3 linked regions of the Homo sapiens genome follow. The protein of the gene in region 1 purifies or fractionates together with the protein of each later gene. This does not show direct contact. Each region holds a gene or a part of one and is shown in the gene's direction. Other genes may lie near its edges.

Region 1 (3,056 bases):
CCTTAAGTGTTTGTTGATTTGGTGGAAAGATGGACTAGCAGAGAGTGCTTGAGTCCTCAGTGTTTAGGGAACAGCCAGCAGCATTGCAGGAAGAAGCTGCTTGAGTGGTCTCCAGAGCCAACCACTCAGGAAGGAATATATCTGCTGGCTCTGCACAGGAGGCAAGTGGGAGATGAAGGAGAGGCCTCTAAAAAACTGGGTCTCTCTCTAGATCTTTGGGCCAGAAGTGGGACAGGCATCCTTCTTCAACCTAACTGTGAAGGAGATGGTAAAGGATGTACTCAAAGGGCAGAACTGGCTCATCTATACATATGGAGTCACTAACTCAGGGAAAACCCACACGATTCAAGGTGAGTAGTAAGCCTTCACGGGATTCCTGATTGGCTGGTAATGGTGTTGTTTTTACCTTTTGAGACTCTGAGTTAGGGGGAGAAGGGCACTTGCCTCAGCTGTCCATCTTTCATATGCCTCCAGGTACCATCAAGGATGGAGGGATTCTCCCCCGGTCCCTGGCGCTGATCTTCAATAGCCTCCAAGGCCAACTTCATCCAACACCTGATCTGAAGCCCTTGCTCTCCAATGAGGTAATCTGGCTAGACAGCAAGCAGATCCGACAGGAGGAAATGAAGAAGCTGTCCCTGCTAAATGGAGGCCTCCAAGAGGTAAAGCATTGGTATCCATGGCAGTGGGGGTAGGGGGTACAAATCTCGGGGAAGTTTTGTGCTTACCTTCTCCCTGTGCCCCTCCAGGAGGAGCTGTCCACTTCCTTGAAGAGGAGTGTCTACATCGAAAGTCGGATAGGTACCAGCACCAGCTTCGACAGTGGCATTGCTGGGCTCTCTTCTATCAGTCAGTGTACCAGCAGTAGCCAGCTGGATGGTATGTACCGTGACTGGGCTCTGCCAAAAAATAGTAGGAACTCACTCCCTGTTCCTAATAGCTGCCAGGAGTACAGACCAGAGGTTGCAATCTAAGGTCTGCCTTCCAAGGCCCCTGCAGGCCAAAAGAGAGGTGAACTGCTCTAGGTTGATGCCCTATACATTGGCTTCTTCTCCAGAAACAAGTCATCGATGGGCACAGCCAGACACTGCCCCACTACCTGTCCCGGCAAACATTCGCTTCTCCATCTGGATCTCATTCTTTGAGATCTACAACGAACTGCTTTATGACCTATTAGAACCGCCTAGCCAACAGCGCAAGAGGCAGACTTTGCGGCTATGCGAGGATCAAAATGGCAATCCCTATGTGAAAGGTAAAGGAACATGGGGAAAGCTGGCATGAACCCTGGAGGGCAACTGGGGAGAGACTGGCAAAAGAGTTGGATGTTCCCATCTTACACCCCTCTCCTTTGGCCCCAGATCTCAACTGGATTCATGTGCAAGATGCTGAGGAGGCCTGGAAGCTCCTAAAAGTGGGTCGTAAGAACCAGAGCTTTGCCAGCACCCACCTCAACCAGAACTCCAGCCGCAGGTGAGTAGATTGTAAGAATAAACTCTTCACTGTGTTCCAGGAAACATTAGTCCTCTGCCTGGTCATGGAAAATGTGCAATGACTTTTTGTTTTTCTTAACTTCCAGTCACAGCATCTTCTCAATCAGGATCCTACACCTTCAGGGGGAAGGAGATATAGTCCCCAAGATCAGCGAGTAAGTTTATCCATTTAGAAATTTGGGCTTCTTGGCCATAAATGATAGTTGGGAAAGCATGGAGGAGGTCCTCAGGGGAACTATGTGTTCTCCTTCTTTGGGTACAGAGATTCTTAGTGGGCCGTCCCCTCTCCAGAATTATACAAAGGGCCAGAAGGCTCATAACATGTGAGGCCCTTATGTCAGATCCTGTGCATCATTCTAGGCTGTCACTCTGTGATCTGGCTGGCTCAGAGCGCTGCAAAGATCAGAAGAGTGGTGAACGGTTGAAGGAAGCAGGAAACATTAACACCTCTCTACACACCCTGGGCCGCTGTATTGCTGCCCTTCGTCAAAACCAGCAGAACCGGTGAGCTTTTGACTATAATTCCTGGGCTCTGCAATTTGCTAAGAGACTTCCTGGACACCACTGGGGATGGTGCTAGGATACCCAAAGGGCTGGTGTTCTGCTCACAGCTCTATTATCTCTGATTCTCTGCCAGGTCAAAGCAGAACCTGGTTCCCTTCCGTGACAGCAAGTTGACTCGAGTGTTCCAAGGTTTCTTCACAGGCCGAGGCCGTTCCTGCATGATTGTCAATGTGAATCCCTGTGCATCTACCTATGATGAAACTCTTCATGTGGCCAAGTTCTCAGCCATTGCTAGCCAGGTGAGAAGCTAGAGGTGTGATGGGTGTGCGCACTTGGAACTGGTAACTCTAAGAAAGCTCCTAGGGACTACTTATGGAGTCAAGTAAGATATTTTTTTTCCCTCTAGCTTGTGCATGCCCCACCTATGCAACTGGGATTCCCATCCCTGCACTCGTTCATCAAGGAACATAGTCTTCAGGTATCCCCCAGCTTAGAGAAAGGGGCTAAGGCAGACACAGGCCTTGATGATGATATTGAAAATGAAGCTGACATCTCCATGTATGGCAAAGAGGTGAGAATACAAGAAAGCTTTAGTGTAGCAGCTTAGTAGCTACACATTTTTCCATGGTGCCTTCCAGGTGGGCTTGTGCCTTCTGAGGGCATGAGCATCTGATGACCTCTGACATGTGTGTCTCTCCTAGGAGCTCCTACAAGTTGTGGAAGCCATGAAGACACTGCTTTTGAAGGAACGACAGGAAAAGCTACAGCTGGAGATGCATCTCCGAGATGAAATTTGCAATGAGATGGTAGAACAGATGCAACAGCGGGAACAGTGGTGCAGGTACTAGCTGAGTGACCCCTCTTGCTCTGTCACCTGAGACAGAGGGTGGGAAGTAAGGAGTTAGGTGGAGTTGTGCCTCAAGATCTGTTCCCCAAGTTCACTCCTCAGAACCTTCACTTACCTCTCTTTTCTCCTCTGTTTCTGACAGTGAACATTTGGACACCCAAAAGGAACTATTGGAGGAAATGTATGAAGAAAAACTAAATATCCTCAAGGAGTCA
Region 2 (3,500 bases), on another chromosome or scaffold:
AGTGCTGTACTGTACCCGTTCTGTCACTTAGATGGTATGGCAAGGCCATCCCCAGGCCTCTTTGTTCTTAAGACTTTTCTCTTCCCTTGGGGACTTCATTGTCCTTAAGACCTTTCCCCTCCCCTGCACTGCACTTCCCCCTGTAGGGTAGAGGTTAATTGGTCACCTGACTGAAGTCAATATTCAACAGCAGAAATGTTAAACGATAACCCATCCCACATTCTTGCCTTGGACCCAGAGGCAGCCAGGCCCCAATCTCTGCACCTCTACTTGCGCCCCCATACAGCCTGTTTGCTGTGGGAGGATGAGAAGCCAGGTGGTTTTGCAGGCAGACAGACTCTGAGAGTCCGTTTATCTTATACAGGATCTCTTGACTTTTTCTTCTTGTAACCTTATTAACCTTCATTCCAGAGATGAAAAAGACAGACCCAGTAGGGGAATAATCAGGGTGAACACGTATATGAAATTCTTTCAAAAACCTAAAAAGCATTTAAGAAAAGAAAAATAGTTTTGTGGGTTGCCACCTCTATTTTTTTGTTTATAAAATGGGAAGGGTCTGGATTGCCCTGTGACTTAGGGTGTGAGGAGGCTTTCTCAGTTCAGAACTTGTTGAGAGATAGGAAGAGTAGTCAGACAGGTGGAGATTACTAATAAAAGCTAGGTTGGGGCTGCGTGTGGGGGCTCACACCTGTAATCCCAGCACTTTGGAAGGCCAAGGTGGGAGGATCACTTGGGCCCAGGAGTTTGAGACCAGCCTGGGCAACAAAGTGAGACCCCCATCTCTACAAAAATACAAAAAAAAAAAAAGAAGGAAAGAAAAGCCAGGTATGTTGGCACCAGCCTGTAGTCTCAGCTACTGAGAAGGTTGAGCTGGAAGGATTGCTTGAACCCTGGGAAGTCAAGGCTGCAGTGAGCTGTGATCATGCCAGTACACTCCAGCCTGGGTGACAGAGCGAGGCCTTGTCAAAAAAAAAAAAAAAAAGCCAGGTTGGGTAACTTGATGAAGATATGTAGGCATTGGACTGAGCCCTGAATTCGAGAGACTCTGACCTTGGTAAGATCAATGGTAGGAGCAGCAGGGAATTTGTGCTTTCTGGAGGCAGGTAGATCCTGAAATAGGAGAAAGAAAAGGGCTGAACCACACACAAATCTGATCATGTGAGACACTTCTCTGCCTTGGGAGGAGTGTTTGGATAGAGAGAAGCCAGATATGTTTCTCTAATGGAGGTCCCTCTGCAGGGAAACATAAAGCCAGGGGAAGGGGGTTTCTTTCCAGCCCTTGGCTTAGGGCGAGAGTACATCAGAGAACTCTGGACAGTGGCGTGGTCAGTTCATGGAGCAGGAGTGAGAGAACACAGCCTGCACTCAAGGCTTTCTCTTGGGGAAGGAGTGGGAATACTGGGTCTGTGCCCATTGATGTCCCCCTTTTCTTTGATCTTTAGCACCCCCAATGGGAACAGCCTCAGTGCCGCAGAACTCACTTGTGGAATGATCATGTGCCTGGCCAGGTAAGTCCCTGACTTCTCAGCAAAGCTAGTCTCTCCGATATGCCAATTATTACCACTTGCCAAGCAAATGGACCCAGAAAAACTTAGAAACATTTCGTCTCAGCGACTTGCAGACTGCTAAGAAGGCGACATGCAGACTGCAAAGAACCTTTAAGGCCATCAGGTCCTCTATTCAACATTCATTACACAGGTTCCCTAGTGCACAAAGGTGCACTTCTCTTTACTCATGTTCTATTCTCCATGCTGCAGACAATCTGCCTTCTCTAGCCTCCAACTCTTGCAAATGTTCTCCATACCCTGCTGCCTGGAGATAACAAGGAAGGATGTTCCAGGCAGCAGGGTATGGACAGTGTCTAGGTACCCTCTGCTTACTTTTCAAGATTAAGCTTCAGTATTAATTTATCCAAGAAGCTCTCTGGCTTTTCCAGCTAGGCTATGTCCCTCACTGATTCCCCTGGCCCTCAGGGCTTATCTCTGTCACTGCCCTTACAAATCTGTATTGTAATAGAATGGAGTAAGAACCTGCTTCAGGGTCCTTGTGTGTTCTGTGGGTTCATAACACAATGGAACTCAAATGGGCAAGACTCTTGCTCTTCTAGCAGGAGTTCCAGGCCTCTTGAGTGGATGGGGCAGCCTAGAAATCAAATGGTTGTGGCACAGAATGTGCTTGAGTCTCAGTGTGTTGGTTAGTAATTTGGCAAAACTGATTGCATGGAGCACTTCTGTTGAACAGGCAATTCAAGCATTTATGTGGTCAAGGGGAAGAACAAGGCTCCCAATAAACAGGGTAGGAAGTTGTTCTAGGTCCCTTTGAAGCTCCATGGATTCCCTAAACCAGCGGACCTAGGCATCAAGGACTCCTTGTTTCTCTACTCAGGCCTGAAACCTTCCGGGACCAAGAAATTACTTTTCCCATGGCGAGACCTGCTTTCCCTCCTGCTGGAGGAGGATCTGGGGGAATTTACCTCTGCTCTAACTCCTCCCTGCAGTTTCCATCTGAGCTCTCTGGTATTCACTGATATTCACTGGTAGGTGAAAGGAGGCAGTGGGGGGAAAGGAGAAACAGGGATAGCTTACACAGCAGTAGGGTCTCAGCCTAGAAGGGGCCCCCAGGCTGGCAGCCGGGTTCTCCCAGAACATCTAGGCTGAGTGTCTCTCCCCCTGGAGAAGTACAGAAGCCTGGCACCCTGGTTTCACTTCAGCTATTACCTTCAGGGATTTTTTTTTTTTTTTTTGAGTAAGGGAAAAGATCTCAATGTGGCTTTCTGATTAATTACCTCACTTTTTTTCTGGAGGTGGAAGGAAAGGATTGGGAGCCAGCAATACTTTCCCTCCTTTTCCAGGACCAGCTTTGTTTAAAGGAATCGGTGAAATGCTGTGGTTTAAAAGAAGCTCCCCATTGTCAACTGCTCACCATGACCTCACTCATCAAAGGTGCATCAAAACTAGGAAACACGCACACCCTATTGGGAAGGAATGCGTTCGTTTCATCAGACTGTTCCTAGCAGGGAGGACGGTAGGAGAGTGTGGGTGCCTATATGTAGACTCTACAGGATTGGGCAATGTGGGTGGAGAGCAGGCGTGGCTGGGCCTCACAGTAGGGACTTTGAGCAGATGGCGGGGGCTCCTGAGGTGCAGAAGAACAGCACACAGAAAGGAAGGAAGGAGAGAATCAACAAATGTAGGTTTCACCATTTTTGCCTGCTTTACCATCTCCTCCTCTAGTAAGTCAGGCCAGCAACCATTTAATTATTGTGAGGACCCTCGCCCACATTAGAGTCCTCTCCAGTCTGGCCTGATGAGGATTCCAAAGCATTGAAACCTGGAGAGGCTCCATGATCAGCTGGGAGCAGCAGCCAGAGAAAAGGGTTAGGGATTTCTTGTGTTCTGTGGTGCCGCACGCATACATCTTAGATAGCACTGTGGAGTCTGGTGGGAAGAAAATAGGATGTGAGGGAGAGGAGAGAGGGGCCAGGTGGGGCTCTGTCTCAC
Region 3 (4,102 bases), on another chromosome or scaffold:
AACCTATTAGAACTGCCATTTCCTCACATGTCAAGAGGAGCCTCAGGTGGTTGGCTGGTGTCCCAAAGACCAGCTCATAGGCTGACACGTACCTGGGCCAGGCTCTGCTGGGGGGACCCACGTTCCCATTTTACAATGAGAAAAGGGAGTAACTAAGTCATCCAGGAAGTAGCCAAACTGGAGGCTGTTAAATCTAGATGTGACATCCAAAGTCAGGGACCTTTCAGATGCACCTGCTTCCCAGTACCCTCCACTTCTGCACACAAACACGTGTGACTTCTGAGGGTCATCTAAAGAGGGAGGTTGGGCCAGGCGTGGTGGCTTATGCCTGTAATCCCAGCACTTTGGGAGGCCGAGTTGGGAGGATCACCTGAGGTCAGGAGTTCAAGGCCGGCCTGGCCAACATGGCGAAATTCCGTCTCTACTAAAAATACAAATATTAGCCAGGTGTGGCGGTGGGCACCTGTAATCCCAGCTACTCAGGAGGCTGAGGCAGGAGAATCGCTTGAACCCAGGAGGCGGAGATTAAAGTAAGCTGAGATTGCACCACTGCATTCTAGCCTGGGTGACAGAGCTAGACTCCGTCTCAAAATAATAACAATAATAATAATGAAGGAGGTTGCCCAGGGATGCCCAGAGCAGACACAGCTGAAGAAGGCACCCTTCCCTGTTGTTGTTGTTTTTTTGGTTTTTTTGTTTTTTCTGGTTTGTTTTTAGAGACAGGGTCTCACTCTTTCGCCCAGGCTGGAGTGCAGTGGCGCAATCAGGGCTCACTGAGGCCTCCACCTCCCAGGTTCAAGCAATCCTCCCACCTCAGCCCTCTGAGTAGCTGGGACTGCAGGCTCATGCCACCATGCCCAGCTAATTTTTTTTCTTTTCATTTTTTGTAGAGATGGGGTCATGCTATATAGCCCAGGCTGGTCTCAAACTCCTGGACTCAAGCGATCCTCCAACCTTGGCCCCCCAAAGTATTGGGATTACAGGCGTGAGCCACCTCCCCTGGGCCCCTTCCTTGGTTTTAAAAAGAGACCCGGGAAGCCCAAATGCTTCCTGAATCGCCCTGAAAAGAGGTGGTTCGTCCTGCAGCCAGCTGACCCAAATGTTCCTGCAGCAGCCCTGTCCCCAAGGAGTTGGGGAAGAGGCCTCTGAGGTCCAGTAGTGGCTGCCATCAAGTTCTGACCCCTCCCTTCAGGCTCAGAGCCCCAAACAGCCAGCTCCCCGCCCCCCTCCACACCCAGCTTCCCTCCCCCATGGCCTCGGCCCCTCCCGCCAAAGGAAGTGAGAAGGGGCTGTTGTAAGAGGAACTAAAGCCGGGAGTCCGGTGAACGGGCAGAAGCAGGGCCATGCCCAAGCCACCCCCAAGATCCCCCTGAACCTGCACCTCCATCACGACCCATTCAGGAGCCTCCAGGAGCCCAGACACCAGCCCCCCACCATGGTAAGTCCTTCAAGGGTGGGATCTGGAAGAAGAAAGAGGAGGGACACCAGCCAGGTGGAGGTGTCCTAAAAATGACCATCAGAAATTGGGGTGAGGGGAGGGGCATGGTGGACTTCTGTGGGGGTGGGGTGTCTCTCAGTGCAGCTCAGGTGCCTCCAGCATCCCTTACCAGGGAGCAAGCTCCCATCTGTAGGTGGTGGGGATGCCAGGGTGGTATCCCTGGATCCAAGGATAGGGCAGGACCTGGAAGACAGAAGGTGGCCCAGGGAGAATCACAGAGTCTGCAGGGACAAGGACATAGCCTCCTTTGCTTGCAAATTAAGGGAGCCCTTTCCCAGTCCAGCCCAGTCTCTCGTCTCCCTGTGTAGCCTTGGGCTAGTCACTTCCCCTCTCTTGGCCCCGGTTCCCACAGATGTCATATTTGGAAATCCGTCTAGATGCGGAAGTTGCTCTTCAGGGGTCTTTCAGTTGCAACATTCTCAAGGTCTGTGGGTTCTGCCACAGAGTCCTCGGCTGAGATGGGAAGCTATGTCTAACAAGCGATGGGGTGGATTGACGCCCTCCCTGTGCCGGTGACGGGCGGTATGGCTGCAGCAGAGGCAGGAGAGGCTGAATACGTCCATGCCACCCTTTGGTGGGCATCCCTTATCCCAAGAGGAGGATGGCAGCCAGAGGTGTTGCTGCCTGTCAAGTCTGAGGTCTGTCGATGATAGCAACGGGGAGACTGTCGTGATCATGGCGCTATTCCTAGCAGTATCGTACCACCATAAGACGCAAAGTAAGAGGTGGCCAGGGCTGACCCCACCCCACAGCTCTCTGCTGTGTAGACCACTTCAGCTTTCATTTCTCGTCATTCAGTCAGTGAGGATGAGAGCATGTGGCTGTGACAGCGGCCACTGCAGGATTCTTGGCAGGTACAGCTTACTAGGGTGGAGTCAGGGACATAGGGCAAGAGGCAGAGGTGGTGTTAGTCTGAGAGACAACACCTTCTTTCAGGAAGCCAGTGAGGGCCAGGGACAGTGGCTCATGCCTGTAATCCCAGCATTTTAGGAGGCTGAGACAGGTAGATCACTTGAGGTCAGGTGTTCGAGACCAGCCTGGCCAACGTGGTGAAACCTCGTCTCTACTAAAAAATACAAAAAATTAACTGGGCGTGGTGGCACACGCCTGTAATCCCAGCTACATATGAGGCTGAGGCAAGAGAATAACTTGAACCCAGGAGGCGGAGGGTGCAGTGAGCTGAGATCCTGCCGCTGCACTCCAGCCTGGGTGACAGAGCACACTCCGTCTCAAAAAAGGAAAGCTGATGAGAAATTGGGCATCCCGGAATTCACACCCAAACCATCAGCTGGAGCTCTGAGACTGTTGGGGTGGGAATTCTTCCAAGATGAGAAGCAAGCCAGGGAGGCTCAGGTCCTGGGATGGGCAGGGCTTTGATCAAAAGAACACAGGAAGTGATTTGCTACTTGAAAGAAAGGCAACCCCTCCCCAAGGAAGCCCTCTGAAAATGCTTAGTCAACAGTCGGCTTGGCAGACAAGGTCTGGGAGGGGCCACCCGTATCGCAGAGGATGATAGAAGAGAAAAAAATGACACCCACCTCTGTCTGGGGATGCTGAAATCTTCCTGGAGGAGTGGTGAATGCCAGGAAGATCGCTGAAGGATTCAATGAAACAGTATTTCTGAAGTCCTTTACAACAGGGTCCCCAACCCCCGGGGTCATGGACTGCTATCGGGCCATGGTCTGTCTGTTAGAAACCATGAGCCCTATCGGGTCACAGAGCAGGAGATGAGTGGCAGGCAAGCAAGCCCGAGCTCCACCTCCTCTCAGATTCTCGGGGGCGCCATTAGATTATCACAGGATCGCAAACCCTGTTGTGAACTGCACACACGAGGGATCCAGGTTGCATGCTGCTTATGACAATCTAATGCCCGGCCGGGTGCGGTGGCTCACACCTGTAATCCTAGCACTTTGGGAGGCCGAGGCGGGCAGATCACGAAGTCAAGAGATAGAAACGATCCTGGCCAACGTGGTGAGACCCCGTCTCTCCTAAAAATACAAAAATGAGCTGGGTGTGGTGGCACATGCCTGTCATCCTAGCTACTCGGGAGGCTGAGGCAGGAGAATCGCTTGAACCCGGGAGGCGGAGGTTGCAGTGAGCCAAGATCACACCATTGCACTACAGCCTCGGCGACAGAGCCAGACTCCGTCTCAAAAAAAAAAAAAAAAGAAAAAGAAAATCTAATGCCGTTGGCAGGGTGCAGTGGCTCATGCCTGTAATCTCAACACTTTTGGAGGCCGAGGTGGGCGGATCACCTGAGGTCAAGAGTTCAAGACCAGCCTGGCCAACATGGCAAAACCCTGTCTCTACTAAAAATACAAAAATTAGCCAGTCGTGGTGGTGCGCGCCTGTAACCCCAGCTACCCGGGAACCTGAGATAGGAGAATCACTTGAACCCAGGAGGCAGAGGTCGCAATGAGACGAGATCACGCCACTGCACTCCAGCCTGGGCCACAGAGAGAGGCTCCATCTCAAAAAAAAAAGAAAGAGAGAGAGAAAGAAAGAAAGAAAAAGAAAGAAAGAAAGAGAAAGAAAAAGAAAGAAAGAGAGAAAGAGAAAGGAAGAAAGAAAGAAAGAGAGAAAGAAGAAAGAGAAAGAAAGGAA

Evidence for each region.
Region 2: the proteins of KIF20A (region 1) and PHGDH purify together in Homo sapiens (affinity purification with mass spectrometry; 2 studies listed by BioGRID and IntAct, with this or other methods). This does not show direct contact.
Region 3: the proteins of KIF20A (region 1) and MYO1F purify together in Homo sapiens (affinity purification with mass spectrometry; 2 studies listed by BioGRID and IntAct, with this or other methods). This does not show direct contact.

What each region holds. Positions count from the first base shown.
Region 1 is NC_000005.10:138,182,112-138,185,167, forward strand, and holds part of KIF20A (kinesin-like protein KIF20A), read left to right. Parts: intron 1-211; coding exon 212-350; intron 351-474; coding exon 475-662; intron 663-749; coding exon 750-879; intron 880-1,057; coding exon 1,058-1,252; intron 1,253-1,358; coding exon 1,359-1,470; intron 1,471-1,576; coding exon 1,577-1,645; intron 1,646-1,850; coding exon 1,851-1,994; intron 1,995-2,127; coding exon 2,128-2,293; intron 2,294-2,400; coding exon 2,401-2,565; intron 2,566-2,695; coding exon 2,696-2,835; intron 2,836-2,983; coding exon 2,984-3,056. UniProt on the Homo sapiens protein: Mitotic kinesin required for chromosome passenger complex (CPC)-mediated cytokinesis. Following phosphorylation by PLK1, involved in recruitment of PLK1 to the central spindle. Interacts with guanosine triphosphate (GTP)-bound forms of RAB6A and RAB6B.
Region 2 is NC_000001.11:119,721,934-119,725,433, forward strand, and holds part of PHGDH (D-3-phosphoglycerate dehydrogenase), read left to right. Parts: intron 1-1,442; coding exon 1,443-1,508; intron 1,509-2,385; coding exon of another isoform or gene 2,386-2,516; exon of another isoform or gene 2,517-2,536; intron 2,537-2,851; coding exon of another isoform or gene 2,852-2,942; intron 2,943-3,500. UniProt on the Homo sapiens protein: Catalyzes the reversible oxidation of 3-phospho-D-glycerate to 3-phosphonooxypyruvate, the first step of the phosphorylated L-serine biosynthesis pathway.
Region 3 is NC_000019.10:8,574,643-8,578,744, reverse strand, and holds the start of MYO1F (unconventional myosin-If), read left to right. Parts: upstream 1-1,302; 5' UTR 1,303-1,435; coding exon 1,436-1,438; intron 1,439-4,102. UniProt on the Homo sapiens protein: Myosins are actin-based motor molecules with ATPase activity. Unconventional myosins serve in intracellular movements. Their highly divergent tails are presumed to bind to membranous compartments, which would be moved relative to actin filaments.